Regions from separate parts of the Homo sapiens genome. Here region 2 is linked to region 1. Evidence: fine-mapped expression QTL. Tissue or cell type: whole blood. Region 1 holds a variant in brackets; the other region holds the start of a gene. Each region is shown on its reference strand, or each on the opposite one.

The links. PIP is the estimated chance that this variant, and not a neighbour inherited with it, causes the effect.
Region 2: ZMIZ2 starts here. The variant in region 1 is the best candidate, but not a certain one, in a credible set for the expression of ZMIZ2 in whole blood (TOPMed, PIP 0.72).

What each region holds. Positions count from the first base shown.
Region 1 is chr12:19,710,866-19,713,773 of GRCh38, forward strand. No RefSeq gene overlaps it. Among named protein-coding and RNA genes, the nearest start is that of AEBP2, 270 kb to the left of the region's middle. The variant T/C (reference allele first, on the strand shown) is at 1,138.
Region 2 is chr7:44,747,559-44,750,466 of GRCh38, forward strand. ZMIZ2 (zinc finger MIZ-type containing 2) reads left to right here and starts at 1,289. Exons shown (of 19, transcript NM_031449.4): 1 at 1,289-1,433. RefSeq lists silencers at 784-1,313, 1,424-1,533, 1,544-1,593.

The DNA.
Region 1 (2,908 bases):
TTAACCCTAATCAGTCATTTGACTGTGGGCTGCCCCTAGAAGGATATGACTTTTAGGGGAGACGGTTCTCTATGGCTGAGACTGAGACAGCCCCAGAAGGGGCTGACAGCAAAAGCTGCACACTCCACAGCTGTGGCCATAGATCTTCCTAGTGACTCTCTCAATGTCACATGGCTCAGAAGTGGTAAGGAATCTAGGATTTCTGACGCCTACTTAAGAGAGTTTCTGTCTTTTACGTGCTGCCTCTCAGCTCATGTGACTACCCAGTGGGACAAGCACCAAGCTTGCCAGTACGTTCTCCAGGACTTGTTCTTGGCAGCAGTGGCTGAGCTATGTGGACTTTATGTGAAAGTAATATTTTTGAAAAACCTCAGGTGGCCTAGGTTTAGCGGAGTAAGTTCCAGGATTGGCTGAGGCAAAGAATTTCTGGCATGGAGTCATTGCTAATTCACTAAGTTCTCTCAGACAATTTATTATAAATCTGAAGGCACGCTGAACTGGCCAGCTTGCTTCCCATTTTTGTTCATTTCCAGGGTGAATACTAAGTTTGGCATCTCACTGGCTCTCTTTGCTGCCTGAGTATGTCAGTCTTGATCTAAAAATAGCCTGAATCCTCCTAGGGTCAATGTGGGTTGACTAGGGTTCAATTTTTCTGGAACCCTGAGGAGGTTGGAGAGGAGGATGAAGGGAATCATGAAGAAGAGAAAGAAGAGATTTTATTTGCGGTAGACATGGATGGCTTTGAGTATTACAAAACAAGAGAAATTGCTTCAGGAAGGCTAGCTTAACATAGAAGAGGTTGTTCATTAACCTTTAAGAAAGCAAAGAATTGTTATGCAGCTGTGTAGGCACAGTAGGAGAGAGACAATGATTGATGGCTGAGGAGATGGCATGGAGGTAAAGCAAAACATGGTCCAGGAGTCAAAAGCTCTGGATTCTAGCTCTTACTCTGCTTCTTAACTAGAATGCACCTTTGGGTCAAAGTCTTCATCTCCCTTGGTTTTAGTATCTCCATGTTTAAAATGGGTCTGATTATGTCAAATTTGCCTTATTCCGTTGATTGTTACAGGGAATAAATGAAGCAATGGATGTAAGTGTGTGAAGTTCCATATAAAAAAGAATGAATTTCTTAGGCCC[T/C]TTCATACAAATTCCAGGACTTTGGGCAATTTTTGGGACTCTGTGATACATACAAAACGGATAGTAGAGTTTGGAAGATCATATATCCTGGAGGTTCTAATTATCTTGGTAATGGTAGGAGTCTTGACTTAGCTACTACTTTGGAAGTCCTCTTGATGTTGAGAATTCACTGGGCCCTTATAGGCGGCTTCTGTCTGTCTCGACTCTTAGACAAAATGAAGTTCGTTTGAAGCAACTGAAAGTTCAGGAAATGAGTCAGGATGACTAAGAGTTGCTAGTGGTGCAACATGATGTGGATCCAACAAAAATATATTGTTGGTGTAGAAATTTGTTAAGGTTTGAGGACTAACTCACATTTTGTGAGAACTGAATCAAGTAAAATGATATTTTGAATTAAAATTCTCTACAAATTCCTGATGAAGACTCATGTATGAGGAGACCGTAATATTTAATGGAAGAGATCAGAAACAGGACTCATCTGGTCTATTGTAGTAGTCTTCCAACTCATTTTACTATGTCTAGTTTTTCCTGTTTCAGTTATTCTATATATTCTTAAAAGAGTTAACTTTCTAAATCAGTTTGTGCCATTTTCCCTGCTTACCTCTGTTGCCTTTAGACTAAGGTCTCAGCCTTGCATATACCAGAATCTAGGGCAGGGATCTTGTCTGCTGTGTTCACTGCTGTGGCTGCATTATCTAGCATGATTCCTAGCATATAGTAAGTGCCCAGTAATACTCATTCATTAATTAATAAAGGTTATACATGATTCAGCCTTAATCTATACTTCCAATTACTTTTCCTAACCATCTTCCCTAGCTCCACATGTCTACCTAGACAAGTTGCTCACAGTTCCCCAAATTCGTTTGGTTATCTCAATCCATGTCTTTGGCATACGTGTCTTGCTGCCTAGAATACCGTCCCACATTTCCATTCCATTTTGTTCTACAATGCTCACATTGTGTATGCTGTAGGGCAGTTGTTTCCATGTCTGTCTCTCTTTCTTACAAGATATTATCTTATTCATCTTTGTATCAGTCTAGTTCCTCGATGTAATAGGTACTTAATTAATGTGTGTCAAATGGTCAAATGGAAGTATTTTATGATAAACCAAATAGCTTAATGATTTGTTTACCATATTCTCTCTGTGGGCTATAACTAAAGAACTGGAAGCAAGAGTGAAAAGTTAAACACCACAGGTACTAGGCCAAGAAATATTCCTTTTGTTTTCAGTTTTCAAGATGAGAACCAGTGATATGTTTCATTGTTACAAATCTTTAGACTCAACCACTTATCACAAACCTAAATTCTGGTGCTAATAAGGTTCTTTCTGTAAAACATCTTCTGTTATTTGGGAGAAAACAACTCTCTTCTGAGGATATTGACTGCACTACCAAGTTCTGGCTCAATATTTTACACATTCCTAAAATGAACCAGTTGAAAGAAGGTGATAACTCTTCTTTTAAACTTTTATTTTAATTTCAAGGGTATACGTGCAGGTTTGTTGCATAGGTATTAAGTCTAGCATCCATTAGTTATTTTTCCTGATACTCTCCCTCCTCCTACCTTCCACCTTCAAGTAGGCTCCAGTGTCTGTTGTTCCCCTCTATGTGTCCATGTGTTCTCATACTTTAGCTCCCACTTATAAGTGAGAAAGTGGTATTTGGATGTCTGTTCCTGGGTTAGTTTGCTAACTATGGACTCCATCCGTGTTCCTACAAAGAACGTGATCTCATTATTTTTTATGGCTGCATAGTATTCCATCATGTATATG
Region 2 (2,908 bases), not on the chromosome of region 1:
GAGGGAAGAAGGAAGGAAAGAAGGAAGGAAAGAAAGAAAGAAAGAAAGAGAGAGAGAAAGGAAAGAAAGAAAGAAAGAAAGAAAGAAAGAAAGAAAGAAAGAAAGAAAGAAATTCTGACACATGCCACAACATGGATGGAAGTGAGGACACTGTGCTAACTAAAGTAAGACTGTCACAAAAAGACATATAATGTATGATTCCACTTATACGATGTCCTTAGAGTAGTCTAATTTAGAGACGAATAGTGAATGCCAAAGGCTAGGAGGAGGAAAGAATGGGGAGCTAGTGTTTACTGGGTATGGAGTTTCCATTTGAGAAGATGAAAAAGTCCTGGAGACGGTTGGTGGTTGCACAAGAATGTGAATGTACTTGGTGCCACAGAACTACACTTGGAAACAGTTAAGATGGTAAGTTTTACGTTATGTGTATTTTACCACAATTAAGAAAAATTAATTATGGGTAGTTGAGAGAATGTGGTCTTCCTCAACTTACGGTAGGAAAAGTCAAGAATAACTTAAAGGCTGATAATAGCATTTCAAAGATCGAAACTGATCAGAGAGGCTATTCCATCAGGCTAGACTAGCTCAATAGTGACTTTTTCCAGAAGGAGAACCACTGGGAAGAGAGAACTGAGCAGTGAGGACAGCGAACTTGTTAAGTTTAGTTTTCTGCTTTAACGAGGGGCTTCCGGAGTCCTTTAATAAGATCCCCTCCCAAAAGTGGCACCCTGGGTCTCTCTGTCTCCCAGTCGTGTCCCCGCCCGCCGGGCCAGAGCAATGGACTCCCAGGAAGCAGGGGGGGCGCGGGCGGGGCGCGGGCGGGGCGGGTGGGGGAAGGGCAAGGACTCACTCTTCCTTTCCTCCTCCGCCGGGGCCCGCCCCGAGCCCTGGCCCCACCCCGGCTCTCTGGATCCGCCTCCTCCTCCCGACCCCGCCCCGGCACCTTGGCCCCGCCTTCCACTCGGCCCCGCCCCGGCGTCCTGGCCCCGCCTCCGCCGCCCGGCCCCGCCCCGCTCCCGGCGGACTGCGAGCAGGAAGAGCGCAGTGGCTCTGCCGACGCCGCGTTCAGAAAGGTGTGGAGGGGGCTGGGGGCGCAGGTCGCGATCAGGCTGCGTCTCCTGCCCGCCCAGCCACCTGCGGCCCTGGCCCCACCCTGCCGCTTTGGGCCGCTCGGGCTCGCGGCCGCCCCCGCCCCGAGCGCCGGCTCGGGGCTCTGCTGCTCTGGCCTGGGAGGCGGGGCCGGCTGCGCGGCGTCATGCATATGCATGAGCGGCGCGGCGGCGGCTCCATTGTGCCCTCGGAGCGGGCGGCGGCGCGATGGCGCGGGTGGCGGCGGCCCCGGGGCGGCGGGCGGCGCGGAGGGCGGGCTGAGCGCATGGAGCGGCGCGGGCCGGGGGCCGCCACGGCGAGGGGCCGGGCCAGGCCGGGCGGAGGTGAGCGGGGTCCTGGGGGTGGCCCCTGGCAACGCCGCCAGCAGGCAGGTGTGGGCCGGCGGGGGCAGGCAGGTGCGGCAGGTGCGGGCCGGCAGGTGCGGGCGGGCAGGCAGGTGTAGCTGGTCGCCCGGGGCGCCCCGGTTCCGCTGCGGCGCCACGGTAGGGTTCACAGCTGGGCTGGGGCTAGAGGCTCTGCCGCCCACCTGCCGGCACCTGCCACGCGTGCGTCGTGGTCTTGGGCAGGCTCGGCCCCGTGGGCGTCAGGGTCATCCAGCCCTCCCCTGAGTCTTTGTTGGAGGCTGGCCGAGGGGTGTAAGCGGCGCTCGGGGTTCTCCTGAGCGATGAAGGCTGGCCGGGCCTTCGCTCCAACCTGATCGTTCCTAGCTTTGGGGCCAGGCAGTCTCACCTACATGGTACGCCCCTCCGCTCCTACTTACGTGCCCACCAGCACGGCGATGTGGGGGCCGTCTGAGGCCGTCACCTGCTCGCGGAGGAGCTGTTCCGCTCCTGGGCTGAACGACGCTGAGCGGCCAGCCCCCAGCTGCCAGTTTTGATGGGGACACCCCTTTCCAAACTGGACATACTGAAGCTCAGGCGTGAGGATGCCCTGCTCCCCTGAGGTGCCTTGTCTTCCCTAGTGCCAGGTGTCCTTCACCGCGGCACCCCCACCCGGTGCCTTGTTTACCCCTCCACCTACCGTGTCTCTCCTCCCATTCCCTGGACCCTCTGCCCTGCAGTGTTCTGCCTCTCCTTCTCCCTAGGGTACCCTCTTTCCAGTATTACAGAACATCCATGGTGGTGTCTTTAATTTGTGTCATCGCAGATTTCACAGGGACACACACGGAACATGTGACTTGGTCTGAGACCGTGGTGATTACGGATAGGATGGACACAGACTCACCACCAAGTTCTGGCAAGCTAGAACCAGAGGGCATCCCTTGATGCTTAGTGTGGAAACAGGAGAAGTGAAGGAATCTTAACTTCCAGAGGTACTGACCTCTAGCCCTTGTCATGCCCAGGGGATAGTTACAAGCTGGAAGTGTAAATGAAGAGAACAAGCAGGTGACAGTTGCCGGTTGTAGATTTCTGAAGGACAGGCCTAAGATGTTTGGGGAGCATCCTGATTATTGGGATTGAGCTCCCAAGGGCTGATGACATGAAGGTGGTCATGTGTCCTCAGTCCTAGGATGCTACCAGATATCCATCTTACACATTGTAAACTGATGCCAGGTTAAGGTTGTCCCTTCAGCTGTTCACTGAAATGTCTCATGCCTGGGCCATTGCTTATTCCTGGACTTTTTGATGAACTCTGCATCCTGACTTAGCCCCACGCTTAGACATTTTAGTACTGTGGCCTTACAGGTAGAGGGGGCAGGACTTTCAGCTACCTGTATATGTGAGTACCCCACTTTTTGCTACCAAGGACCCCGCTCCTGCAACATTCCACAGCCATCATTTCTTCAATACCCTTTGAC